Homo sapiens: one gene and its partners. The protein of the gene in region 2 purifies or fractionates together with the protein of the main gene of each other region. This does not show direct contact. Each region holds a gene or a part of one and is shown on either strand. Other genes may lie near its edges. The genes, in order: ANO4, EHBP1L1 and PPP4R1.

What was found.
Region 1: the proteins of EHBP1L1 (region 2) and ANO4 purify together in Homo sapiens (co-immunoprecipitation; one large-scale study listed by IntAct). This does not show direct contact.
Region 3: the proteins of EHBP1L1 (region 2) and PPP4R1 fractionate together in Homo sapiens (co-fractionation; one large-scale study listed by BioGRID). This does not show direct contact.

The regions. Positions count from the first base shown.
Region 1 is NC_000012.12:100,789,684-100,799,873, forward strand, and holds the start of ANO4 (anoctamin-4), read left to right. Parts: upstream 1-5,092; 5' UTR 5,093-5,344; intron 5,345-10,190. UniProt on the Homo sapiens protein: Has calcium-dependent phospholipid scramblase activity; scrambles phosphatidylserine, phosphatidylcholine and galactosylceramide. Does not exhibit calcium-activated chloride channel (CaCC) activity.
Region 2 is NC_000011.10:65,571,740-65,579,924, reverse strand, and holds the start of EHBP1L1 (EH domain-binding protein 1-like protein 1), read right to left. Parts: upstream 3,873-8,185; 5' UTR 3,623-3,872; coding exon 3,519-3,622; intron 1,719-3,518; exon of another isoform or gene 1,647-1,718; intron 848-1,646; coding exon 790-847; coding exon of another isoform or gene 761-789; intron 585-760; coding exon 489-584; intron 1-488. Other genes in the region: FAM89B (leucine repeat adapter protein 25), read right to left, coding at 6,284-6,562, 6,965-7,255. UniProt on the Homo sapiens protein: May act as Rab effector protein and play a role in vesicle trafficking.
Region 3 is NC_000018.10:9,608,331-9,618,676, forward strand, and holds the start of PPP4R1 (serine/threonine-protein phosphatase 4 regulatory subunit 1), read right to left. Parts: upstream 6,230-10,346; 5' UTR 6,155-6,229; coding exon 6,148-6,154; intron 5,945-6,147; exon of another isoform or gene 5,941-5,944; coding exon 5,896-5,940; exon of another isoform or gene 4,127-5,895; intron 1-4,126. UniProt on the Homo sapiens protein: Regulatory subunit of serine/threonine-protein phosphatase 4. May play a role in regulation of cell division in renal glomeruli. The PPP4C-PPP4R1 PP4 complex may play a role in dephosphorylation and regulation of HDAC3.

The DNA of each region.
Region 1 (10,190 bases), on a different chromosome or scaffold from region 2:
CATAGAAACTCCTGGTTGAAGGAGGAGATATATATGGTTCATAAGCTTGTAGGCATGAATTCCTGGAAAACAAGTTTGTCCTTTCTTCAAAGTGCTTTGGACTGTAAGGAAGAGGCATGAAAGATGGATTCATTCTTTGTGTACTTATTGAGCTCCTGTTGTGTGTCAGACACTGGAAATAACAAAGGGTCCCACTTAAATAGGTTAAAAGGTACTAATTTAGCACAGTGTTATCTGCTATTTGTATTTGATAAAAAGACGAGAAAAAACACTGCGGAAACACAGAGGAAGAAGCGATTAAGTAAGTCATTTTGGGGAATTTGAGGATGGCCTCACCGTGAAGATGGCATTGAACTGGGCCTTGAAGGATGATTGATAGTGGTGGGGAGGGATTCTCCAGGGAGAGAAGCAGGAAGGCTATTCTAGGAAAAAAGGATTATGGCAATAGAAGAATACACTCTCTGTGGGGAATAGCAACAGGTGTAACCAGGGCATGAGATAATATAGGAAGTAATGGTGGGAAATTATGCTGGAAATGTAGACTGAAGTCAGGTTGCAGAGGGCTTTGAATGTCAGGTGCAGAAGTGGGTGTATTTGGCCTGATCATCCCAGACCTGTTACAAGGGGATGGCATGATTATATTTGTTGTATTTTAGAAAGAAAATTCTAATGGCTAAGGTAGGTCAGATTGGAACCAAGGAGAGTTTAGAAACCATTATAATAGTTTAAAAGAAAGAATTGGTTGCAGCCCCTAATTCTGTGTTGAGAAGAAGTTTAGAGGTAACATTGGTAAGACTTAAGTACTGATTGGATGTGGAGACACTCCAGTTAGATTTTAAATGCACACGCTAATTTTCTAACATTGGTGCACACACACATACTTCTTATTTTGGCTTCACCAGACTCAGCCTAATTCTCCCTGACTATTTAAGTCAGCCACTGATTTATTTTTCTATCTTCAGAAAAAAAAAAAGAAAAAATTATAGGTCTGTGATCTTATGGATTCTTTCTGTATGATTTGATTTTGATGATCCCATAGGATTCTTCAGGCTAAGGAATGCTGACTGTGCAAACAAATTTTTGAAGACTTGGATGCTCTCATTATATTTATGTGCTGCAGATACCTACTATTTGGAATGGTTGTTGCTATTTGCAAACCCGCCTACTAAGCACTTTGGGGAAATTATTAGCAGCCATTGACCTCTGATAGGGAAACATTAGCAGTTCAACCTATCCTCTCTCCATTTCAGGTCTCCTGCTGAATGCTGAAGGATAATTAGGATTTTAGAATTTAGTGAGGGACCATACTTTAATGTGTATGTCAGTCCCATACTTTTCTAGAATATTCTTTCCCTCTATAGTATTATTCTAGTAAGTAAGGACTATTCCTCTTGGCCTTAAAATGTAATTCAAGGCTGGGTGTGGTGGTTCATGCCTGTAATCCTAGCACTTTGGGAGGCTGAGGCAGGCGGATTGCCTGAGCTCAGGAGTTCGAGACTAGCCTGGGCAACACGGTGAAACCCTGTCTCTACTACAATACAGAAAATTAGCCGGGTGTGGTGGCATGCAGCTGTGGTCCCATTGGGTATGGTGGCATGCACCTGTGGTCCCAGTTACTTGGGAGGCTGAGGCAGGAGAATTGCTTAAACCCGGGAGGCAGAGGTTGCAGTGAGCCGAGATCGCACCACTGCACTCCAGGCTGGATGGCAGAGCGAGACTCTGTCTCCAAAAAACAACAACAACAACAAAAATGGTAATTATAGGGTCAGAGTTGAGAAACAAAAATCAACAAATACAAATCATTTTCTCTTTAATTTATAAGCATTAGGAATTCATTTTTTGTTGCATAAAAGATTTACATTTAATCTCTGAGGTAAAAGAAGTTTCGGCTTCAACTTGGACTTGTGTCATTCCCACCTCATCCAAATTCATGTAACATGGTGGGAAGGGTCCTCTATTGTCTCATACATTTAGTCTAAAAGCATTCTTGGGGGACCCCCTCCTATGTTCAAATCAGTGTCTCCATATAAAAGGAAGCTCTGAGGCTGTTCCAGTTGTTCCTACATTGTCTTTGCCACTTGGGTGAGCGTTTTCAGCCTCCCTGAGCCCCAGGTGCCCCAGTGTACATAATACTTACACTATGGGTGCTGCAAAGGCCTGGAAAGATAGGTGGAGCCATTGGAGTCAACTCTGGCACATGGTGGGGTTTAGTTATTTTAGACACTGGCTTTCAGAAGTTAGATGGAAGAGACACAGACTTTTCCATATGCAGATTATAACTTAGTTTTCAAAACCATTAATTGGCAGAAAGTTATTTAAAAGTCCCAATTCTCATACCTCCATTAAAATATTCTGATGTCAAAAATGGAATTATGTGGCCGCCTACCCTCTCGGTGGTCTGGAAAATAGTCATATTTTCACTTTTTCTCCTTAGGCTAGTTACAGAACACAGAACCCACTTCCCATGAACTGTGTCTACCCTGGTGTTGAAAGACTGAGCTTGAAGAATACTTGTCTTTTAGCCTTTAGAAAGCTCTGTCAACAAGCTTCTGTGAAACAAAGTTCCTGAAAAAGCTATCTTATTTCTTTTTAAATAAGTGGCAGATACAGGTACATAATTCAGTTTATCTTGTAGTCAGGAAAAAGGCATTAAATCGTGCTGTTGTAGAATTTTAGCCACATTCTTTTGGCCATTCAAATGGCCATCGATCCAACAAATACTGATTGAGAACCTATTATATGTTAAGTACTACACCAGTTCAACACCAGTGAACAAGACACAATCGCTGATATCATCCCAAGTTTAATTGACTTGTATAAACAATCTGTACATTACAAAAATTAATGTTGTTGCTATCTGAAATGGGAGGCATTTTCTGTCATTTTTTTAGTAGAGAGGAATAAAGAGACCGAACTTTAAAAATTAATGGCGTTTGAGTTAATAACTGGAATACCTATTTTTATTGATCAATTGTCATATAGATGTGCAGTTACTTAATCCACTAGATAATTTGTATTTCTGCAGTATTTTCCATTTCATGCATCATTATAATGCTGTGTATTCAAGGTATGAACCCGTTTCATCAACAGTATTAATCTCAATTCATTTAGGAGCTTTAAATAATATTCCCTTATTAAGTATATTCTTGATATGCTGCCCATGCTTTTACAGTGTCAGAAGCCGTTAATGCAGATAAAAACAAACATTCAGTTAAAGAACCTTCTCATATATTAATTCGATTTCAGAAATTATTTGTGCATTTATATTTCCTGAATGGCTTCGGTTATGACAAACATCTAACTAGGCTAATTCAGAGCTTTGAGGCTAAAGTCCAGCCTCATGGATTGGTTTAATCTGAAGAACATTAAAATAGTAGAACATTTTCTGTCTTGGCAAGAATCATAGTGTTGAAATTTCAAGAAGAAGATTTAAATTTGTCCATGAGACTGTAAACTTCTTGAAGGCAAGGACTCATCTCTGTAGCCCTGATGCATAATTGATGTTCTTCAAATGTTTGCTGATTTGAGTTGAACTGAGGAGAATAACAAAACAGCATTTGAGAATCAAAGTCTCCCAGGTTTTCCTTATATAATTTACAAGGACTTCCCTGGCAAACTATCCTTTCTTCTTCGTTTAAAAAATTTCACTTTATTATGTTCATCTTTGATGTGGAACATTTTTTATGGCCTTCTGCTGTGACTCATTTTGGTGCTGAGTTATCTGCTTCCTTGGAGCTCAGCCCTTCCTTTTAAGCTGTGGTATTCAGGCTCCCCAAAGTCAGCTTGCCTACGGGTAGAGATCACAGCAAAATGTGCAAATGGTATTCCAACTTCTAGGTAAAAACAGACAACTAAAATTAAAAACTCTACATCATGTAAGTCACCTGGAAAAAAAAAACAGAAAACAAAACCCGAGGGCATTTGTATATTCCTGTTAACTCTTGACTGACTAAAGGGAGTTATCTTTTCTGCAGTGATAAAAAGGTGGCCCAAGACAATCTCCCCATCTTACAAAAAGTTCTGAAGTTTTACTGTGGAGTCCAATTAAACTGGCATTTAACTTCAGAAACTACATCCCTATATAATGTAATCATCACAACCAAATACAAATTAATTAATATATATGGACAAAGTTTATAAGTTCAATATTAGAATAGGGGAAAAGGGAAGTAGGAAAAGTTTAGAGTCCTCCACGCATCCTTCATTTATCACCAAGAGATTTGCTCCTTTGCTCCTTCTGTTAGTGTAAGTCAGAATTTCTCAATTTTCAGTGTGTTTATGAATTGTTATTATTGTTTATCCCAAACACATATTTTGTCTTATAGGTGATTTAAGAGCTCTAAAAGGGACATGTTAACTATCTTCAGAAGCTCACCTCTAACAATATTTCTATACCTATATTATACAAGAAAACTAATGAAGATTGACAGTCAAATTCCTGGAGAGACCTTTGACCCTTCTCTGTCTTAAATTTTTCACTTCTGAAATAGAAAGCCGGGTCACTGGTCATCTTATCCTGCACTTTGGGCATAAAGAAGCTTAGGTCCAAAGCGCCATTACTGTACTCATGATGACCCCTTGAAGGCACATCAGTAGGGCTGTCTGGACTGTGACATGCCATCAGACATCATTTAGGGGACTTCAAGTCTGGCTTCTTGCAGAGATGCTGTGGGATGCCTCAAAAACTTCCTGCATGGCTAGTGTAACTATGGGGCTTTAGATCTTTGTTAAATACAAGCAAACATTAACAGCAGCAGTGGAGAGGATAAGTTGCCAATCCTCCCAAATTTCTTTTCCAGGCAGGGGGTTGTCCTGCCGCTCTCAGAACTGGCTGTCATCTGCTGCTCTCTTGTCACACTGACACGGCCCCCTGGCTGGGCTGATTGGTCGCTGGCAATAACTGATATGGAATACTGATGTTCTCTCCGGCAGTTCCTTCCACTCTAAAGAGACTCCTTTTCATCCCTCTTCTCGCCTTTCCTAGCCCAGCCTAGTGCCCACCCTCCCCCGACCATGCCTCCCCTGCACCTGGGGAGGGGGAGGACCAGTCCTGGGCGTGATGCTCTGAGACGGTGGTGAAATCCACCAGGCTGCTTTCACTCCGGCTCGCTCTCCGGAGAGTCCTGTTCCAGACTTCTCAGGGTTTTTACAGCACAAACAACTGCATACGGCCCGAGGGGAGGCTGAAAAGGACTTGTGTGTGGTGGTTTTATTGCCTGTCATCACTTTGCTGGCCTCCTCCCGACTGGAGCCTGGAGGTTCACAGTGGATTTCTTTCTGCCGAAGACACCAAGGCACTGAGGAAGGATCCCTTCTCCTTCTGTTGACTCTTTCTATTTTTATGGTAAGTGCTTACGTTGAATGAGCTGCTCTGTTGCTGCAGTGAACTGAACCGTTCGTTCCCCCTCTTCCCAGCTAAGCTTAGTGACCTTCCTTCTGCATTTCCTCTGTTTTCATGGATCTTGTCTGGGATGATCCAGCTTCAAAAATGCCAGGGGTCATTTGCCTGGAGTGTTTGTCTTTTTATCTTTTTTCCATAAACGTGAGCTCTTCTGCTGTGATACGAATATAAGTGCTCTGTCTTTGTCCTTGAAGCAGCAGCCGGGGAAATGTGTTCACGATGGTAAACTGCAGCAGCGTGCAGGGAATCTGTGGAGGATGACTGACAAATTTGGGCAGGATGAATCCTCAGTGTGCCAGGGGCACTCACTCAGGATCAGAAGGGCCGGGGGTGACCTGCCCACATAGCAAACTCTTCCATCTTTGTGGATAAAGATGAGCACACACGTGTGAGTTATGTTGAGTCTGCTGTGGGCAGCTGTGTTTTCTGCACCTGCCCGTGTGGGTCTGGGATGACCCTATATCTTGTGGGGTTTACAACTTGGGCAGGAACATTCTCAGCAGGAGGAATCCTGAGCTGGCAGACGGAGTAGACTGCATGACCTCATTGCTTCTTTCCCTTCTGAGTCTCAGGGTACCCAGTTCTGCAAACCATATTTTACAGGCTCTTCAGAGAGTGGTAGGGCAGTGATGACAGGAACATTTTTGAGTTGACAACATAGTTTTGTCCTCCTGCTAGGAGATAAAATACTTTGAGGTTATTAGAATGGTTAGACTTTTCTAGGAGAACATAAGCAGGTTTCTGACGAAGACTATGGATGTGGCAGATTGTTTATTCCAGGGACATTACTCTTACAATAGTGCTCTAATTTTTCACCTGGTCTCCTGAGGTTTGCTGCAAAGAGCATCACAACTTCAAGTCTATTACTGGCAGCTTCTTGACGCCCAAAGGAAACCAAGAACATTTTATTAGTTTCACTCCTGTGCGTTGCAGGAGTCTCTCTTAACAGGGATTTTTTTTTTTTTTTTTTGGTAGCAGGTGTGTCGAACTATTTTGGTCAAAGCATCATTCCAAAGAATAGCTTCGCAGTTGTAATTCTATTTAGTTATTTTCAAGTCTTGGACCGGAGGTGGGTTATCTTATTTGTGTAGGTTTTTCCATTCTGGTCCATTTCACTCTAGAGAGGGTTCTTGCCAAATGTAATTCAGTCTCTGATTCATAAGGTACTGAACTAATACAATGTGATTTTTTGTGATAAGTGAGGGGAGAGAATGTGGGGTGAAATTTCCAGTCTCTCCTCCTGCTCTTTGGGAGTTTGGAATGTAAAGTTCCCTAACTGCTTGCTCATTTTCACTACTTTTATGTCCCCTGTTCATGTGGATTTTTCTTGAAATAGTGGTGATGACATCAGACATATGCCTTTACCTTCTTCTCTGGGTCCAAAGTAGATGCGTTTGTTGTTGTTCTGTTTTTGTTTGTTTTTTATTTCAGTGAAGGGTTCCTTGCATTTGTAAAAGCATACGTTTAAATAAAAAACAAGAATTTGTAGATGTTTACATGTTAGCCCTGTTCAAGAGTAAAACCAGCACAGAGGTTAACAGCAAAAAAAAAAAAAATTCAAAACAATTTTTAAAATATTATCAGCATTGCTTGGCTTAGCTGTTCTAATATCCACTCTTCCCTACACTCGATTGTGGTTCGCGGCAATACTGTATTGTAATTTGACTGTCAGACTGCTCTGCTTCCTCTTTAATTCTTTAATGTTTAGCTGTTTACTTTCATCCTTAATGGTGTGTTCTTACTTTGCTTAATCTTTTTTTCTCTTTTTCTAATTGAAAGGATGTTATATAGTGCCTGGTAACTCAACTGAGGATACTCATTAAGATGGAAAGTGTTAGAATCAGCTTGGGTGTCATGGAAATAGACTCAGTATTTCTCACTGCAGGCAATTTCAGAATCATTTAGAACATATTTCATTTTAATTAGTAGCAACTTTAGCCTTGAGAAAAAACATTATTTAGGTTTCCTTTATTTTGCTAAACAGATTGTGTACCTATGCAATCAGAATTGTATATATATGTGCAATTGTTTATATATATGTGTGTGTATATATATATATATACACACATATACAAGCGTGTACACAAATGTACTGTTGTTTGTACTGTGTCAATTGTATATACTTAAAAAATTGTTGTAGCATGCCCATTTGGAGAACAGAAGGAAAATTCCTCAGATATTGCTTTAACTGGCTTTTTTTTTTTTTTGGTAAGGATTTCCCCACTTCCTAGACCCCACTTCCAGATAATGCCTTTAAGAATTTCTTTGAATTGGGAGAGTGCATTTTTCAGCATTTCCTTGTCTCACAGCATGGTGTCATGTTAATTCCTTTGCAGGGTCTCTGAAAGCAGCATAGAAAACTACTGCAGGAAAAATTGATAAAAGCTGTGCTGAGCGGAGCCTGTAGCCTCTTGGTGTGATGAAGTCACTGCAACATTTTGTGTGTATTTATTTTGCTGCTATGCCTTGCAACTGATTTTGCTTGCAGACTTAGCAAATTGAAGTTATTTAAAATGGGTCTGGAAACACCTAGATTGGTGTAGATGCAGTTGATGCAGTTATTCTTTTTTTTTTTACACTCTTTAATTACAACTATCATCAAAACTGTGCTTTCACTGTTTCTTTTGGTGGTGGTTTAATTTGAAACTTGCAGCTTAAATTATAAACCAAGTCTCCCTTTTAAAGTCCTCTTGCCTTCTGCTTTCTCTCTTCTTCACTTTTGCCATTTTATATATGTGAACATGCCTACATGTACACAGACAAACTCAGACAGTGAAAAATGTACAACAATTAATGAAGAGATGATTACAGCTTTTCTTTTAGTAACCAAACTCCAAATGTTGAAACCATAATCATGTAACTGAGGGAAGAAATTGTTTCTGTTAGTATAAATATAACCTCATACTTCTGCAGGCATTCTTATCATTGAAACTGTTTTCCATAGTTGATTACCAGGACCAGAAATAGAATTGATTTTGCATTTTAATTAATGACATTCTGGATCTGTCTAGGTTGGACTGCCCTCAAACCTTGATATGTTTACTGTCTAAAAGGTCTTTGTGTTAAGAGGGGGAGTTTATGGGTGTTATAAAGTAAAATCATTTGATTATGTGATACAGCTTTTCTTTGGTAACTGAATGAACCATATCATTAGAATGTTGGCTGAATTTTTATGTTGCTTTTCCCAATATTATTTAGCCAATATAATCCCTTTTACCATCTCTTTGAGCCCCTTTTACAGAGTACAAAGAGTTATGTGCGACTCCCACATGAGGCTTCTTAGAGGGAAGACTGTTCTTCAGCAGAGATTCAGAACTACTTCTAGCACCAGCTCTGGTAATCTACTTGGAAAGGAACTTGCAATTCAATTGGCAACTCAGGCAGATTGTATAAAATAGGAGAAATGCTTCATGAGCTGTGTTGAATACTGTATTTTTGATCTGTGCCTCCCTACTAAATTCATTTAGGACTGTCTTTACTAGATCAGTTTTGCAGGGAAAAAAACATGTCCTCAGTAGCATAATAATCTATCCAGACTGTCATAAATGTTTATATTGCAAGTTATACTTCTTAGGAGTTGGAGGGAGATGGCAGAATTTTGGAGGAGAACCAAATCACAGCCCCAAAATAATGCAAGACGAAAGGGGAACATTCTTCCTATGTTTAGCATTTAATTCTCCAGTCAGGCTGTTTGCTCTTAAGTCTGAAGAGCGAAGAAATGTAAAAACACATAATGACAGGTTTTGTGGGCTTTTTCTCTAATAGAAATCTTTAACCCTTAATTAGGCATCTGCTGACTGACCTTTTGGTGTGTGTGAGCCAGCAGCCATTCTTATAGAAAGCAGACATAATGTAATACAGTAGGAATTCAGTTACTTACATCTTTCCTGTTGGTCCCCCACAGGGGACCTCCTCTGAGTGTCAGAGAGGGAGTGAGTGTCTGGAGACCATCAGAGACCACAGCCAGTCACAGAGAGATATCTTCAAGCCCCTTGGATTCCAGTTCAGCCCCCACCACTAACTGGCTGTGTGACTCAAATTCTGTATCTGCTACATGAAGCTTGGACCAGATAATCCCAGAGGACTGTAACCCAGCCATTAAAAATTGTGAAGTATTAATTCACTTCTATTTGCTACTAGATGAACGATTATTTCTAAGACAATTGACCCATATTAGACATTCCTGGAGGGAGTAGGCTGTAACTTCCTTTGACCCTGCAAAGCCCCCAGAACTGTGACAGTGACGTGAGCATCAGTGTTACTCAGAAAAGTGTGATCATGGTACCCTTCATGAACAGGGCGAATATGTATATGATGACTATCTGCTTATCCTGGCACATTTTGGAAAGTCTCTTGTGATTATCAAAAAGGACCTTGGCCAGGGGCGGTGGCCCATGCCTGTAAATCCCAGCACTTTGGTAGGCCGAGGTGGGCAGATCATGAGGTCAAGAGATCGAGACCATCCTGGCCAACATGGTGAAACTCCATCTTACGAAAAATACAAAAATTAGCTGGGCATGGTGGGGCGCGCCTGTAATCCCAGCTACTCAGGAGGCTGAGGTAAGAGAATCACTTGAACCCAGGAGGCGGAGGTTGCAGTGAGCCGAGATTGCGCCATTGCACTCCAGCCTGGCAACAGAGCAAGACTCCGTCTCAAAAAAAACCAAAAGGAACCTTAAAGAGCAATTTACCTAATCCTCTCATTCCACAGAAGTTAAGGAAGTGATATGACTTCCCCAAGGCTGGAGACTCACATAGCACCTGGGCCGGATGACTTTAGTGTAAGGTG
Region 2 (8,185 bases):
GGTGCTGGTGAGTACAGGACTGTTGGGGCAGCAGCAAAGGGAGCAGAGCTTGTCTGGCTCAGGAGGTGCTTGGTAGTGGTGGCTTTTTTTTTTTTTTTGAGACGGAGTCTTCCTCTGTCGTCGAGGCTGGAGTGCAGGGGTGCGATCTCGGCTCACTGCAACCTCTGCCTCCCAGGTTCAAGCAATTCTCGTGCCTCAGCCTCCCAAGTAGCTGGGATTACAGGTGCACGCGGTGGTTGCTACCTCCTCCTGGGATGCACCCCAAGTTCTGGTCCCAGCTGCCTCTCATGCTGCATGTGTTGGGTAAATGCTGCCTCCTCCAAGGAGACCTCCTGGGCCAGTGATGCTGAGCAGGCCCCCCTAATTCTTGGCCTCACCCCCCGCATCCTCTTCTATCTGGATGAACAACCTACCAGGAGACCTGTGTTGCAATTGTTGCAACTGCCTGTGTTGCAATTGCCATCCATGCTGGAGGGCTAGAGACTCACCCTGTAGAGGGTCACAGAGATGTCCACATTCTCAGGTACCATCCACACCACGGTGCCCCGGTATGGGTTCTGGATGCCCGGCTGCCAGCTGTGGGCCTACAAGGGACAATCTGAGTCCTCCCCCCATCTTAACTCTTCCCTCCCACCTGCACCCCCTATCACCAACCTTGACACCATCTTCCCCTCCCCTCTGTGGATTCTGATCTGTGCTTGAACCTCACTCCACTCCCCCATCAGCCCCCATCAGCCTCCCACCGGCCCCCATCCCTAACCTGGATCCCCAGTTGCCATCCTTCCCCACCTTGGAGCAGATGCGTCGGTTCCGACGGGTCCATACCACCACCAGCTTATCTGGCTGCCTGGGGGAGGGGGAAGGGGAGGGAGAAAGGGAGCAGGCTGCTTGGTCAGGCTCACCTGCCTCCCCATCTCCTCTTCCTCCTCCCCCAGCTCCCTCAGGGTCTTCCTTCTGCCCACCTCCCCCTCCTCCAGAAGAGGGCCTGGGCAGCCCCTTATCTGGGGCCACAGGGTGCAGGGTGGAGCTGCTAAGGTAGGGTGGGGCCAGAGCAGAAGGGCAAAGGCCCAGACAGTGTGGGCAGGCAGGGACTATGAGGAAAGACAGCAAGTGAGAAAGGGACAGGCACATACAGAGACCAAGACACACAGAAACACAAGGACCTGGCAAGAGATGCCAGACACAGATGCACATGTGAGCATCGTGCACACACGCAGACTCCAACACAGGGAGAGACAAAGACGAGGGATAAAAGAAGTCCCTTCGCACAAAGATGTTTGTGGAGCGCCCACCATAAACCCAGCCCAGTTTTGGGGACAGAGGAGGGCAAAAGAGAGACAAGACCTTTCCGGTGAGGACAATGGAGGTGGGGGCAGACTACCAGTCAAGAAGGAAAATAAATTAACAAGCGAACTCCAGGGTGATGTGAGGGAACCCCTGGGGGTCTCCTTGAGGTTGGGTGTCTGGGCAGAGATGAGTGGCAGGGGGATGGGCTGTGTGAGGATCTGGAGAAAGAGGGAATGGCAAGTCCAAGGGTCTGCGGCTGGAGGGTGACATCAGAGAGAGGGGCAGAGAGTTGGGGGTGAGGCCGGAGAAGCAGCAGAGGGTCAGCCTGTCATTAACCAACACCGCCATCCCTCGCCCACCATGTCCAGCCCTTTGCTGGGCGCAGGGGTCCCAAGGAGGATCAGCTTTCGGCAAGATGATGACAGTGGAGCCTGGAGGGCAATCAGAAAAGACTTCCAGGGGGTGACATCTAAGCTGAACAGCATATGCCAGGTCAGACATGGAGGAGAGGCAGAGGCAAAGCCAGAGGACAGAGATGGCTGCGCAGGGCCCATTCCCAGGCACTGAGTGGACTCATGGCTGGGCCTGGGGGCAGAGGGCCCCTTGGGGTTAGATGTTCAACTGCTGCCCAGGAGGGGTGATGCTTGAGGGGACGATCCGGCCCAGGGCAGCACGCGAACTGGCCTTGCCTGTACCCAGCCCCATGCCTGCACCCTCTCGTGATGCTGGGGTTTGCCCAGCTCACTGTTCGTCTGAGGCCAAGCCAGGATAAGTGCCTCTCTGTTAACCCTGAGGATGCTGAGGCCCACAGAGGTTTGGAGCCAAACAAGTTTACACGGTTGAGCCTAGAGCCCTCCAACCCAGAGCCAAGTTCCCTTCCCCAAGCCCAAATTGCCAGCGATGGCAGAGCAAGGGTAACTAAGGGGCCTTCCCAGAAAGGGGAAGCGGACAGGGGGTGCCTAGGGAGGGCAGGGCTTGGCTGGGCAGCCTGACTCAGGCTGGGCACGCCCTCCTGGGAAGCTGCAACCTGGGCAGGGGCAGCTTCCCGGCCTGGGCTCCAGGCTAAGCAGCCCAGGAGGCCCTACCCACAGCCGCCTGTGACTCAGCTGCGTTGACACTGCCGGCACCCTCAGCCTGCTGTGCCCAGTGTTTCCCTGGCCTCCCGCAGGATGCTGGAGCAGGAGCCAGAGGCCAGAGTTCAAGTGCCAGCCCCCAAGCTCTCCCAGGCTCTGCTGAAAGATGTGAATGGCCCTCTAGCAGGCCCAGTGTGGGCAAGGCCAAGGATATGGCAGCTGCCCAAGGGACCCCAGCCTCCTGCTTACTCCCCTCCCCCTGGACCCCATGGTCCCTTCCTGCCCCAGCCCTTCCCCTGGGGAGCCTAAATTTAGCCCCGCCTGGCGGGTGAGGCCCCCACAGCTGTGCCCTAATCCAGCCAAGGGAAGCTGACACCAGCAAGCACGTATATTTAGGGTGTGACGCAGGGGCCTGGGCAGCTATGGGTGGCGGCATGTGAACGAGATGCCCCTGAACCTGTTGGTAGTCCAGGCTGGGGCCTGCACCCTCTGGTGAATCACCCCTCACCCTGCCACCTTGCCCTCCGCAACCCTCTCCTCCCGGACCCACAACCTCCTAGGTCCTCAGGCCCCTTTAAGCTGCTCCCCGCCTCCCTCCTCAATCCTCCCAGCACTCAGTTTCCCCTTTTAAGGACATTGTGGAGATGTTTCCAGCCTCCCAGCACTCTGGCTGAAGAGGCGGGAGTTGGAGGGGTTCTTCTGGCTCAACAAGATGGCAGGGGAGGAGGGGGCAACATCTCTGTTCTTAGCTGGACTAAGTAAGGTCAGGGAGGCTCCTGCCCCAGCCCTAGCCACCTGCAGACCTCAAAACTTGATCCCTTTTCCAATGCCACCCTGAACCACCTTTCTGGCACAAGACATGCGGCCTCCCTCCCCCAGCCCTGACCGCAGCTGAGGAAGGAGTGGACACAGGCAGAACCTCAGGCCTGAAAGTCCTGACCCCCGCGCAGGGAAGGCTGCCCACGCCCCCAACTCCAGGGGTCCCACAAATTGCAAGGGCACTTCTGAATCTCCGAGCCTGGGAACGGAACCAGGGCCCAAGCTGGGGTGGGGGCCCATTTGGTCATTGGGCTGGGGGGGCAGAGTCCTCTCAGGCTCAAAGGGCCGGATGAGGTCCCAGCAAGTTCGGGGGAGCCCCCCCGCCTCCCTCCCACTCACCATTTCTTGGTGCACTCCAACACTAGCTCGTGGTAACAGGCCACGAACTGGAACTTGGCCGCCCGCTTGCCCACGCGCTGCAGGCGCTTCCACACCGAGGTCATGGCCCCCGCCACCCCGCCGCCCACTTCTCAGGCCCGGGGCTCCCGCTGGCCCGCCACCGCTGGCCCGGCCCGGGTCCCCATGGCCTGTCCGCGCCGCCCGCCCCGTCCGTGCGGAGGTGTCCCAGGCTCCGACCCGGGACCGCGCTCTCCGCTGCCGCCGCTGGGGCCCGCAGGGTGGTCTGGCTGAGTCTGCGGGGTCGCCTGGGGCGCGTCGGGTGGCGAGCGCGGAGCTGGGAGCGCGCCGTTTCCTGGAGCCGCACCCCCGTCGGAAGGCGGGCGGGGCTCCGGCGCGGGGCGGGGGCCGGGGCAGGAGCGCGGGGGCGGGGCGACCCGGCTTCCGGGGCCTCGCGCCGCGACCCGGGAGCGGGAGCGGGGGCGGGGGAGGGGGGCGTGGAAGGGGTGTCGCCCGACCGCAGTGCCCGCTCGGTGCGCGCAGAGGCTGCGTGGAGAGAGGGCAACCAGCAACTTGGTGCCACCCTAGAGAGCGCTGCCCGGGCCGCCTTCCTTCCTGCCCGCAGCCCTGGGAGGTACGTACTACTGGCCCCCTTTCAACGGCTGGGAAAACTGAGACCCAGAAAGGGGAAGGGACTTGCTCAGAGTCATACTGTGAATGTGGACGAGGACCAGCTCTCAACTCCAAGGTGCAGCCACCCACGTCTTAACCAGAGCAGGAAGGCGTCAGTAACCTCGGTGGCCCAACCTCAGAACCTGACTCTGCTGTCAAGGGGGAAGATAATCCCAAACCCCGACAAGTAGCTGGAGAATCATAACTGACCTCCAACCAAGTGTGACTTTGGGCAAAGCGCTAACACTCTGAGCCTCAGTTTCAACGTCTATTAAATGGGGATAATTGTAGTTCCGCCTTTTAGGGAATCCCTGAGAGGATGAACCTCAGAAGGCATTTAGCAGAAAGCCTGGCTGATTTTGCCATGCCTCCTTATTAAATGGGATGCGCTATAATGGATGGGGAAAACGTGTCATTTTTGTGTATGTTTACTCTCCCTCCCCAGGAAAGCCTGCCTGGAGCGTTAGCAGCTGTGAACCCCTAGATTAGAGCCCTTATCGCCTACCCACCCGCCCTGCATGGTAATGAGCCTCTGCAGGTGTCAGCTGCCCTGGGGCAATAGGTCAGTTTGTTCCTTCCCGCTGCTCTGCAAGGTGTGTAAATGGACAGGAGCCCGGTGCGTGACTGCTACTTGGTTTAACGGGATGTCTGAGTGCCAGGACTGCCATCTGGGCTGCATCTCCAGGAGGCAAATGGCTGCAGCAGGGCGCGGGGATGTGCTGTTCGTCCGCACACCTCGGTGTGCGGCTTCACCTCTTTTCAGGAGGTTGTGAGGTGTCGTGTGCGCGTGTAGGGGGCTGAGTACCCACTGTCTCCGAACGTGCTGGCTTCTTCCGGTGGGCTTGACAACTGGGTTTGGTTCTCAGTCCCAGCGGTGTGGGTCCCCGGTTTCCTAAGAAACCTTCCACAGATAACTGTAAAGACCGCTAGTGCTGTGGGGAGAGCCGGCGGTCTTCACAGACTGAGCGGGGAATACGGGTCCCTGGAACCCCAATCAAACTTCACCGCCGCGGAGTCTCATGCTTGGCCTCCGGGAAGGCCCGAGGTGCCGCGACTTCACTCCCCTCGGCCTCTGCCACCCCTCCCTCCCACCCGCGGGGCGTGAGGTCCCAGGCCGTTCCCGGAGGCGCCTCCCCCGCCCCCGCCGGGGCCCCTTGCTCCGGCGACTCCGGCCACCCATTTCCTGCGCCGCCTCAACCCCGCCCCGCGCGGGGTGGAAAGTTTCCCTCCTCAAGGTGGGCGGCTCCTTCTCCTTCCTTCCCGGCAGGCAGGGAAAGCCCGAAGCGAACTGGGAGGAGGGAGCGGGGGACTCGGAGGTCGCGGGCGAGAGAGGGGAAGTGACTCGACCGCAGTCACCCGGCGGCTGAGCCAGGCTCGGCCAGCAGGCAGCGCCCCCAGCCCCGCCCCGGCGGGACGGCAGGGCCTTCACTCGGCGCGGGGCGGGGGGGGAGGGGGTCTCGGGCGCCACCTGCTGGCAGAGCGCGGGGCCGCACCTGCCACAAACACCGCGGTCTTCCCGCCCCAGAGCCAGCCAGGCAGAGCACAACGACGCTGAGTGTATTTATTTATCTACGCGCCCTGGAGACCGGCCCCTAAATTTAAATATCCAGCACGGGGCCTTGGCCCTCCTGGCCGTGGGTGGTTATTGGGACGGGTCCTGGAGCCCTTCCAGGGCAGAGGAACCCAGAGCCCGGAGGTGGGATGCCCCTGAGCCAGCAGCTGCCGATAGCAACAAAAGGTGAGGAGGAGATGGGAGCCAGGCACTCATCCCAATCCCAGAGACGCCAAGCGGAAGGGAAGATGCTTCGGGCCCCACCGCAAGGCTGAGGGTTGGCCAAGCTGGGGGTGCACACATGTGGAAGAACTGGAGGCCCAGTGCCATGAGCAGAGGCTGTACCCTAGATGCCCGCCCCAGTGCCAGCCAACCCAAGACAGGAGAAAGAGTTTGGCAGTTTCGCCTCTGAGGAATACATGCCTGGCCCTCCTGTGAGGTGAGGCGGTAGGGGGGAAGGCGCAGGCTCCGAAGTCTGAGGGCTTGCCGGAGGGGGAGTTTCTGAGCCTTTTGCATGGGTGCATGCCCCCTGCCCCCCAGCCCTTCAGAGGCTGATGTGGAAGGCATCCTGCAGCCACTGGTCACGGGCATTGTGCGTCTGGGGCACAGTAAGGGGTGGCGGGTCAGGAGGCAGGCTGGCATCGGGAGGCTCCTCGTCGTCAGACAGGCCCGCATCCGGTGGGTAGGAGCTGTCCGAATGGAGGGAGGATGACAGGTCCTGGCAGAAGCTCAGGTCTTGGCACAGGTGTTTGTAGTCCTGGATTGACTCGTACAGGCCCCACAGCTGGCACAACAAGGACATGTCCAACTGCCGCAGCCCCACCTGCAGACAACTGAGGGTGGGCTGGAGTTGGGGTCCAGGCCACCCCAGCCCAGCCCCGCCCCCTGGAATAGTGGGCCCCAGCCCATCTTCCCCGCACCTTCCTAAACGAAGTTTTTGTGGACATCAGGCACCACCTGCAAGCTATGCAACTTTAGTCATGACCCTCACCCAAAAAATGGGGTTATCCATTTAGCCGGATGAAATGAAGTAACGTCAGCAAAACATTTGAAAATATATGGTAACTACTGCCATAATTGGTAACTATCACTAATTATTGTTACCATAACCCTTGCAACCCAACTGGTGCCTGCAAGTCCTCTGAGACCCAGGCCGCCTGTCCCAGTCCCCTGCGTTCCTCCGCGTCAGCCCCCCGCCCAGCTGGCCCGGCGCCCACCCACTCACCATCTCCTTGCGCAGCGCGGCCAGCGCTGAGTCGAGGTTGACAGGACGACGCGGGCCGGCTGCGGGTCCCGCGTTGGCGGCGCCGGCGGCGTGGCGGGGCCCGTCCGGGGCGCGGGCGGCGCGGCTCAGCTCGTCGTGGATGCGGCTGCGCTGGCTGTAGACGCGCTCCAGCTCCCGCCACGAGCCCCCGCTCGCATTAAGGAGGCCGCTGAGGCCGCGCGGCAGCGGTGGGAGCCCGGCCAAAGCGCAGCCCGCCCCGCCCGGCGCCTCTGCCGAGGGCAGCCCGTTCATGGCCGGGGCCGGCGCGGACGGCGATGCCACCTCCTTCCCTCCAACGCTCCGCCCGGGCCGCCGCCCGCAGGCCCCGCACCCCGCGGCCCCGCCGGAGCCCAGCCGCCGCCCGCAGGCCTCGCTTTGTTCCTTCCCCAGCTCCTCAGACTCCGCCTCTGCCCCACCCCCTCTGGATGGGCCGGGCCTCTCTTAAAAAGGCAACGGTTGTGGGACCACGTCGCGCAAAGCTGAGAAAAGGCAACGGGACATCCACTCACTCAAGGGGAGATGGAAAAATGCGGCGGAGGGGGGAAAAGGCTGAAGGGGGCAGGCGTGGTTTCTTCACGGTTCTTTTTGCTACCCCGTCTCCCCGCCGCGCCCCGCCCCGCCCCCACACCCAAGGAAAATGATCTAACAGTGGAGTCAGGAGACTGGCAAGTCCACACTTGGTGCCTAACGTGCCACCTGACGCTGGGGTCACCACAAACTCCTGTCGGTGTCTGAGTACCTGGGGTGGGCATGAGATGGGATAGGCTGATAGGGTCAGGATGCTCAGGGGAAGGAGGGGAATCTATCAAGGGGATCGGAACACAAAACCTCACTTCCAGGTGGGGAATGGACACCAGATGGCGGAAGAGGCTGCAGAGGTGCTGCCAGAGACAAGGCTAGGGTCCACCCCTCTGGCTGCTACCTTTGAAAAGGCTATGGCTTCTTCCTTAGAAAAGGGGCATCACATAGTCCTCTACCTACTCCCTCATCCTGACTGGGGAAACTGAGAAGAAACAAGCTCAACTCATCTCAGGGCGTCAAGGAGAGCAGAGTGGAGAGGTGAAGAGGCCAAAAGCTGGAAAAAGGTGAGTGGAGCTGGGGCTGGCATGCACACTTGGAACCAGGAAAAAAACAAACCACACAGAGGAACAGCTGTTTTTCTAGAGGGTTTTTCTCAGGGGC
Region 3 (10,346 bases), on a different chromosome or scaffold from region 2:
TACCAAGCCCAGTGTTCTTTCCCCTACACAAAACTATACTGAGGTATCTTCCAGAATGACTGCATGATAGATGCTCAAATACCAACCACATTCATATCAATAAGGCCAGAAAGTAAGTTAAGTTTGCTCCTTAGTCTAGGGAGATAAGAAGCTAAGATGACTTAAAAGTTAGGAGAGTTAAGAAATGAATGTGGAGGAAGCAGCATTGATGATGTCACCAGCTCAAAGATCTGTGCTAAAAGCAGAGCAAGTTCCAGACCCTCTTATAGAAATTAGAGGGAATACCTCCTCAGCCAAAATTCCATAGGTGTGCCATCCAGACTTCTGCCCAAAACACTAAGTTAGGTTTATTCTCAGCTCCAATTTAAAAACAACAACACAACTCTAATTCAAATTTAGGAACTTTCAAATTCTTTTACTCCAAAATATAAAAAAAAGATGTAATACAAACATAGGAGCAAGGTAACAATAGTTTAATAAACATACATTCATTGTTTTGAGGAGACTGAGAGAAAAGGACCAGAAATAATAAACCAGAGATCAAACAAATGTGGCAGCAGACTTCTGAACTTTACCTCCTGAGGTCTATTTATCTTTCACAGGCAGGAACAAACAAAAAGTATGCATTTAGGTGTCTTGGTTTTTTATTTTTTGGAGGGGGGAGGGCAGTGGATCGTGTAGCTACAGGCCCAAGCATATTTACAAAGGGGTTTTTCTCTCTGTCTCTCTCTCTCTCTCTTTCAATTTTATGTGGGAAGTTGTTAGCAGAGGTATCATTAATTGATCCAACACACATGTGGGTACCACTGAAACCATTTTAAAAGCACTCTTTTCTAAGATATCAATGATATTATCTCTAAATAAAGATCTCTCCATCCAGGCTTGTTGGCAGCAGTCAAAACAGGCTACCAGGTCTCACGACTCACCCTCCCAAATCCCTATTTAACAATACTCCTAAATATGATTCACGTTCAAGGGCACCTTCCAAAGGTTTCTGAATGATTCCCTGGCCACTACCAGATACAGCCCCAATATTTTGCTCCTCACCTCCCACCGGAAGCAAGGACTCTAAGCTTATCAGAACTGGTTTTGAAACATGGTAGGAAGGCCTGAAGATTCTGCACAGAGTGCGGTCTAGGCGGTTACCCTCAGTTAGTTCTGGACCCATCCTTCACTCTACTTCAACACCGCCCTTAAACCCGAAAAACAGCATAATGTAAAAGGATTCCAAAACTTAAATATGAAAAAAGTCTGTTGTATGGCATACTCAATAACATAGCTTCAAAAACTTTTCAACGTCATACTTAGTTACAGCTGAGATAAAAGTTAACGACTAAATAAGCTGTCTTATACCCAAGCTCCATCCTCTCTATCATTCTCCAGGTGTAAACTAAACCACATGCAGCATCCCAGATTAATTTTCAAGGGTACTTTAAGAACGAGTTCAAAGAAATTGCCTGTACAAGTTTGGGTTGATCAATATTTTAAACTGGGCCATTTAAGAAAATATTCAAAATATGATATTTAGAATCAGAAGGCCTAGCTTAAAATTCCGTCTAAACTTAGGAGTTTTGTTTCTTTAGTCCCTTTGGGCATTAGTCAACTTACTTATTAGTATTAGAATACCACAGCCTACACATCACAGGACTGCTGTGAAGAATAACCTGTGTATGAAAGGCACTGTAAACTAAGCGTTACATAGCCATTCTTTAAAAATAACATTCTTCAACATATTACTTTGATAAAAGCTTAAGTTCTAATGAAACTCCTTCAATGAAATTATTTTTACAAGCATTGGCTCATCAAATCTTAACCGTATCTTAGTCTCATTTCATTTTAGGAATCTACCAACTTAAATGTGAATCAAAATTGCATCTTTGGAAACTAAAACAGAAATCTGAAATAATTTTTTCTAAACATCTACAATTTTGTATTGTCTCCCATTATTTAAGGAACATAATTAAATATAAAAAGTTAAAAAGGGTTTACCCAACTCTGAAATCTGCTGAGATAACCTATGTTCAAATGGAGTCACTGGTTTGCTTTCAATTTGAAATTCAAAGTATTTCATGATACAGTACTGAAAGTTTCACTTTTAAACTTAAATACATATGGTTTTTATTGCATTATTCTCCTAAACTTTTTTTTTTTGAGACGGAGTCTTGCTCTGTCGCCAGGCTGGAGTGCAGTAGCACAATCTTGGCTCACTGCAACCTCTACCTCCTGGGTTCAAGCAACTCCCCTGCCTCAGCCTCCTGAGCAGCTGCGACTACAGGTGCACGCCACCACGCCCAGTTAATTTTTTTTTGTATTTCAGTAGACATTTCACCATGTTGGCCAGGATGGTCTCGATCTCCTGACCTCGTGATCCGCCCACCTCGGCCTCCCAAAGTGCTGGGATTACAGGCATGAGCCACTGCACCCAGCCTATTCTCCTAAATTTAAGAGTACCTGATAATGATTTCATTTACTTACCTTTATAAGTTACTTGATAAAAGTTTAAGTTCTAATGAAACTCCTTCAATGAAATTATGTGTACACACACACACACACACACACACACACAAATACCATCCATTTTTCCCTCATTAGGATTTTTTTTCCTCCAAAGGTTATCAGTCAAGTCAGTCTTTGACCAACCTTTTCCCCGACTCTGTGCCTCTGTACAGAGACGGGATTAAAACAAATCAAATCGAAAGACCTGAGACTCTTAGCAATGTCTGGCAATGCCCCTCTTTCAAGTCCTAGACTCCAGCTAGGTCCTTTCCTAGATCATCTGCACAACAGAACTTACTGTCTCTTCCCTCATAGTCCAGGTTCTGCATTTAGGAAGGTCAACCAAGATTCTAGAGCTTGACCAGAAAACAATTTCTTCCCATCCCAAGGGCCAACTTACACCTAGCTTGGCTGAAGTAGTAGGACTTGTTTACAACTACTCTGGAGGTTGGGCTCCATACTCTGGAGTTTTACCATAGACAGAGAAACTCAGGCTCACGAGATAACAACCGTGTTATAAGGGCAGCCCAAGCTCCGTTCCTCTACCTTTGGGTCCTCTACCTTCTCCAGCTTCTCCAGGATGTGACAGCTGTCTCAGTCCTTTACCAACCATCTTGCTCTCTAAGGAGGCACCATGGCCCAGTGTTCCCCCTCATTCTTTCTCCCTTCACAAGAGATGGGAAGTGGTCCTTCAACTGGCCATATGTCCAAAAGTCCTTTGTTCCTGAATATTCTGGGTAAAGGTATCACCTGTAAAAACTTTAGTAACTGAGAAAAATAAGCAATTACTCTAACAAAGCCTTCAACCAAATTATGAATATGCAAATAACTATTGTGCCTTCAATGTCTGTTTTATCCTAAATTAAAATGCACAGGAAACAGAATCTTTAAAAAGTTAGTTGCAGCCGGGCGCAGTGGCTCACGCCTGTAATCCCAGCACTTTGGGAGGCCAAGGCAGGTGGATCACCTGAGGTCGGGAGTTCGAGACCAGCCTGATCAACATGGAGAAACCCCGTCTCTACTAAAAGTACAAAATTAGCCAGGCGTGGTGGCACACGCCTGTAATCCCAGTTACTTGGGAGGCTGAGGCAGGAGAATCACTTGAACCCGGGAGGCAGAGGTTGCGGTGAGCCGAGATCGCGCCATTTTGCACTCCAGCCTGGGCAACAAGAGTGAAACTCCATCTCAAAAAAAAAAAAAATTTAGTTGCGAGCATTGGCAGCATCTTTAAGTACCTTCATTCTGTAAGGTTCAACATCAGTGTTTCCTTCTCTGCTCTTCTTTTAAGCTTCCCTTGCTCTTTTCTCATAACAGCAAACATAATCATAATCATCGCTGTTTACCAGGAATTGTTCCAAGTGCTTCAGAGGCACTAACTCATGTACAGCCTTGAACAACTCTATGAAGTAGGTAATATTTCTTATGCCTACTTACAAATGACAAAACTGAGGCATAGGGAGGTTAAGTGAGTTGCCCAAGTCTGCCCAAAAAGACACTGCTAAGACAAACAGAGCAGCCTGGCTCCAGTGGTAACTGTAATACTGTACTGTACACCTAGATTCAAAACTGCTTGTAAACCACTAGAGGGCATGGGTTGTGCCCATCTTTCTCAAAGCTCCATCCCCAGTACCTGGCAGAGTGTTGAAACTCATGGTTGAATTTTTCACAGGTATGCCTTCCCCTCTACACTGTGCTTCTTGGGGGCTAAGGAAGAAACTGAGACTGCATTTCATCCTTCAGGAGTGAGAAGTTTTTGCTCCAGTCATAAATACTTGCTGAATAAATGAATCTTCTATTTACGAAGTCGAACATAAATATAAAAAGCCCTCCTCGAGGTAACATAATCAGGGCCATTTCTCCAATCCTAACCTGGCAAGAGATCTGAAATCAACAGATGCCTTAAATAATATCTCAAACTTACTATTAGGCAGATAAGTGGCTTAAGGTAAACATTAAATAAAATGTTAAAGCTGCCCTTCACTACATGAGTACTGCTCCCTTTAAGAGAGCTGTTTTGAGCCACCTCACTAAAAACACAGACTTAGCAAAAGTTTGGATGTGGTTCATTTACTTTAAAGATAAATTACTCGTTTCAGATAATCCATCTAAATAGTAAATCCCCCTTACTTTACTCAAAACAACCAGGAATCTAAAAATTAAGTTTACTCTGAGTAAGGGAACCACATTAGACAATGCTAAGGATTAACTACAGAGTATTTAAAAGAGTAATTTCAAACTGCAGCCATCTCTGAAATTACTTATACAGGTACTAGACAGTCAATCTCAGCATCCGGTAGGCTTTCCACTAAACAGACCACAATCCTACTATGGTTATCATCTCAACTCAGAACAATTTCTTGGTCCCTTATGTATCCCATGATCTTCGCTTATATATTTTGCACACTCTGCATTTTTAAAATGCATCTCAAAACCTATTGATTTTTTGATGGGTCGCTATTTTGGAAGATTAGCAAGAATAGAAACTATTTTAAGTTAACTGCAATTTGTCACTTCTTTCAATACAAACCTGCTTAACTCTTTTGTCTTTTCTATCGTGACCCAAATTATTTTCTGAGGCTTAGAAAAGTACATATAAGACGAAAAATTCCTTTCTAAATATCAATTCCGTCGCCATCAGGAAATGTCAGAAACTTTGTCTTTTTAAAAATAAAAGCGTCAACTCTTTAAAAACTTCAGTACCTCAAAGGAAAGCTGCACTGTTAACACTGAAGGAGGGCTGGGTGATTTCTGAACATCCGCATTAAAGAAATATGCTCTCCAAACCTAGTAATTCCTGCGGAGGCCACACCTTCTAACCTTCTCGTAATCCACTAATCAAATCGGGAGCATCTGAAAACTGCTACCAGCCAAAGTAAAATGACAGGTATGTCATCCTCAAACAATCCAAAACCGGGTCGGGGAGCCCAGACGGCTAGCCGGGGCCCAGGCTGACCCCCGGGCGCTCCTGGAAGAGCGACTCTAAGGAAACACACCTCCCGCGCGAGCCTCTTCCTTCCTAGAGTGACGGGGGAAGGGGACACCAGGGGCAGAAACACACCCAAACCCCACTTCAAATCCTGCCCCACCGCTTCTCCTTCCAAAACAGCCGCGCCACTGCTGAGCCCGCAGGCGATTCGGGGGCGCCGGGAGAAGAGAGCGAAGGGCGGAAAGCGAACTTGGGCGTTACTCCGGGCGTCTCCCTCCCCCAGCGGAACCTGGGCGCGCCGTTTCCTCACGGACGCGAGATTTTCCCCCCCGATCGCCACCCCAGCCCGCCTGGGGCCGCCCTCGCCCACCGTCCCCTCAGCCAGCCAGGGCCCGGCCCAGGCCTCGCCGCCGCCCGCCCTCCCCGGCCGCTCCCCGCGGACTGCCAGGCCACCGCGAGGCCGGGCCACTCACATCCGTCTGCGTCCTCCTGCAGGTCCTCCTGAAGCAGCGAGAGGTCTGCGCCGAGGGGAGAGAAGAAAGGCCCGGTCAGCGCCCCGGGGCCCGGCGCGACGCCCCCCCCCCGCCCGCCTCCCCCCCGCCCCGGGGGCGCCTTCCCGCGCCGGGACCCCACGCCGGCCCCGGCCCGGCAGCCACTCAGGGCTGCGGCGGAGGGCGGGTGGGCTCGAGGAGCCGCCGCCGCCCGGAGAACAGGGGGCCACGTACCCGCCATCTTGTGGTCGCCCCCTCCTCCGCGGCCGCCCGGGGAGCCGGGGCTACATGGAGCGGCGCGAGCCGGGGAGCCGGTGGACGCGCGCGGGAGGGGCGGCGGGGAGGAGGAGGGCCGGGCTGGCGGGGGCGCGCGCGCGGGGCGGGCCGAGGGCCCGGGCCTGCCGCGGGCGGCGCGGCTCCCGGCCGCCCGGGCCCCCGGCCGCGCCCCGCCCCGCCCCGCCTGCCCCTCCGCGCGGCTCCCGGGCGACCGGCGCTCCCGCCTCCCGCCTTTCCCGCTGCTTGCCGGGTCCCGGCCCGGCGACGCGCGCTCACACCCTCCTCCCGAGCCGCCCTCACGCCGAGCGCTGCGGACGGGGGCGCGCAACCTGCCGCCGGCCGGGACCCTGCGGCGAGTGCCGGAACCCGGCCGGGCGGGGCCTCCCGCGGCCCGGCCGCTTTATTGGGTCACCGGCCTCGCCCACCGCCCTGCCAGCCGCAGCCATCTCGGCGGGCGCGCCGCTCGCAGCCAGCGCCCCATCCCCAGGCCTGCACGTACGTCGTCGGCGATCCGGGGCCGGGGGCGGCTCCGAGGTCGTCGGGGCCGGGGTCCCACCTCCTCTTGGAGGAAGCGCCGCCTCCCCACCCGCCCGGGGCCCTCGCCAAGTGGCTGCTAACAAAGCCCAGGGCCCGGCTGCGGGATGGTTGACTGACAAAGTCATGCCTGCCTAGCCAGCTTCCTCGTGCAGCACGGTGAAGGCTGGGGCGCCGGGTTTTTACTCCCACGTCCTGCCAACTCGAGCTGACAAGGCGGGCAATCCACCAGCGGGAGCGTTGGCAGGCCCGGGGTCAGATCCTGATTCAGCCAGTTAATTGGTAGGAGTGGGGCCCATTTGTAGAATGAAGGTGATAACTGCCTCGTGGGGTTATTGGCATTAAATGAAGAATGTAGGGAACCTAGCATGGTTCTTGATGTCTAGGAGGTGCTCGGTGAAGGGTGCCTATGATTCGCTTTGTCTTCTAAATACTTTTGGCAGCACTTGAGGTGTTAAAGTCTGTATCCCAGACTTTATTAGTCTTGTTGTTTTACGTGACTTAAGCGATTAGCTCAAACGCCCAAGTACAAAATGGGGCTAAACCCAGGTTTTCCGACACGATTCTACCTCCATGGCTCTATCTCCAGCTCCACCCAAGGCCTCCAAAATGGTGTTCTCCTAAAGTGACCAACAAAACACCAAGCTGTGTCATGGTGCCACTTTGGCGATGTGGTCTCTTAGGAGAGGGAATTCTAAGTAGTTAATTAGCTTGTTCCTTTCTACGTTGTAGTCTTGACCAAGGACAATGTGTTGGCATTTAATGCCACTGAAGATTTAAGAGACTAAGGAATCAGATCCTCTGAGATTCCTAAATCTGTGTAATAAAATGGGTTCTACACATAGCTATTCCAAAAAATTCAGTCAGATATTACTAACAAGATAGACAGATTATAATCTGTATGAAATTTCTAGGAGTAATAAAAATCAGAATAGACCCCGTAACCCCGAGTATGTGTCTAATTTTCTCAACTATAAAATAATTAAAACTAAAGGCCTTTCTCTTCCTCCCTTGGTGAATGCCCTTATGTGAATTCAGCTGACACACTCAGAATGACAAAGGAGTTAGAAATTCACATCAACAGCAATTGGTCCCAACTGACTCAAACCATGAGACTTCTGCCCTGCTAAGATACCTTGTCAGTATCTACCACTTTAGCAATTCTGGGTAAATGGGGGAAGAAAGAGCCAAATCAGCTCTTTTTTTTTTTTTCATTAAAAAGCAAATTTTTTTTAGAGCCAGTCTTGCCTTACGTAGCCCAGGCTGGAGTGCAGTGGCACAATCATGACTCACTGTAACCTCGAACTCCTGGCCTCAAGAGATCCTCCCATCTCAGCCTCCCAAGTAACTGGAACTAAAGGCACAGGCCACTCCACCTGGCCAATTTATTTTTAAAATTTTTTAGGGACGTGGTTCTACTGTGTTGCCCAGGTGGGTCTTGAACTCCTGGCCTCAAGCAATCCTCTGGCCTTGGTCTCCCAAAGCACCAGGATTACAGGTGTGAGCCACCAAACCCGGCCCAAATCAGCTCTTTATTCTAACTGGTGGTCTCACCGCAACAACACAAAATCTACAGCGTGCCAACTGTGCTTCAGCCGCTGGATGCACTAAGACAAAACTGTCTTGATCTACACAGTTGAGTTAGACTTAACAGTTCTCAGTAATCATGATAAAATAGGGACTATGTACCAAATGCTAGCCTAGGATATGGAACAACTAATTCTGCCTTTGGTAGCTAGGCCTCAGTAAGTTTTATCTCAGTATTCTGTGGGAAGGGCAGCAAAGGAGGAGGATCTGTATCATTTTTCTGTATTCAAGAGCTATGCATTTGATTATCATCTTAGCTGAATTACACATTGCAAGAAGTGCCTTTAAGCAATATGGTTTTTAGATATTTCAGTGACGGTATCATTCATGGTTCAGCACAAATATGTGTTTTTTACATTTCACTTTCTCTCCTTTCTAAAAGAAAGGAGTTTTTAAACCAGTGTTTACAAACTGCACTCTGTCCCCTTCTTCTAAGAAATAATATTTAAACAAATAATAGCAATCATTATTCTACATACCTTTAACCCAGCTTCACTTACAATGCAGCTCGTGGATGGCAGAGCTGTGTGTTGTCCGTGGTCAGACACACAGGAAGTCTGAATTGTTATCCTGTTCTGCCACTGAAATGTGTAAAATATAGGGGGAGTGTCCCAAGTCATTTTCCTAAAAGCATCATCCAACTATGTAAGTACTAAGGCCTGCATTTTTAAGAATAAGTCCTCTTCCAAATGATAAGGAAAGGGTTTTTGTTTGTTTGTTTTTGAGACAGGCTCTTGCTGTGTCACCCAGGCTGGAGTGCAGTGGTGCAGTCTCAGCTCACTGCAACCTCCACCTCCTAGGCTCTGGCAGTCCTCCCACCTTAGCCCCCTGAGTAGTTGGGACTACAGGTGGGCGCCACCACACCCAGCTAATTTTGGTATTTTTTCGTAGAGACGGGGTTTTGCCATGTTGCCCAGGCTGATCTCAAACTCCTGGGCTCAGGTGATCTGCCCGCCTTGGCCTCCCAAAGTGCTGGGGTTATAGGCATGAGCCACTGTGCCTGGCCACAGTGACAATTTTTCTTAGCAGCCAATGAGCCTTGGAAATTAATGTGTCTGGCTTTTCAACCACAAACAAACATAAAAAAAAAATGGCGAAAACATCGCTAATAAACAAAACCCACCTGATGTTGCTTGCCACTATCATGTTTGTTAATTTTTGTATCGGTGATTGAACCATTCACTTTTTTCTTCAGAATTATCATTCCTGAAACTGAAAGTATATAAGGACAGCCCTATTATTTATTGTTTTAAATGATGAAAAGAGAAACAGTCTGAAAAATGGAGAAATACTTACATGATTAAAAATGATTTTTAAACAAATATTTATTTGCTTTTTTAAAATGAAATTTGCGTGTCATCTTTGCACAGGGGCCATGCTAATCTTCTCTGTATCAGTCTAATTTTAGTGCATGTGCTGCTGAAACGAGCACGTTAAACAAATTTTTACCATTCATTTCATTCATCTTTTTTGAAGCCAGATTGACAAAATGTCCCTCATAAACTCATTTTCAAATAAGAAGAACAATTTTTAGGCCATGTGTGGTGGCTCACGCCTGTAATCCCAGCACTTTGGGTGGCTGAGGTGGGCAGATCACCTGGCGTTGGGAGTTCGAGACCAGCCTGGCTAACATGACGAAACCCTGTCTCTACTAAAAATACAAAAAATTAGCTGGGCATGGTGGCACATGCCTGTAATCCCAGCTACTAGGGAGGCTGAGGCAGGAGAATCACTTGAACCGGGGAGGCAGAGGTTGCAGTGAGCCAAGATCATGCCACTGCACTCCAGTCCGGGACACAGAGTGAGAGTCTGTCTCAAAAAAAAAAAGGAACAATTTAAAAAAACTAATTGCCAGTCTCTTACCTAAAGCCTCCTATACATTTCTATACATTGTATAAAGGTAAGGACAGACGCAGTGGCTCACGCCTGTAATCCCACCACTTTGGGAGGCTGAGGCAGGCAGATCACAAGGTCAGGGGATCGAGACTATCCTGGCTAACAGTGAAACCCAGTCTCTACTAAAAATACAAAAAAAT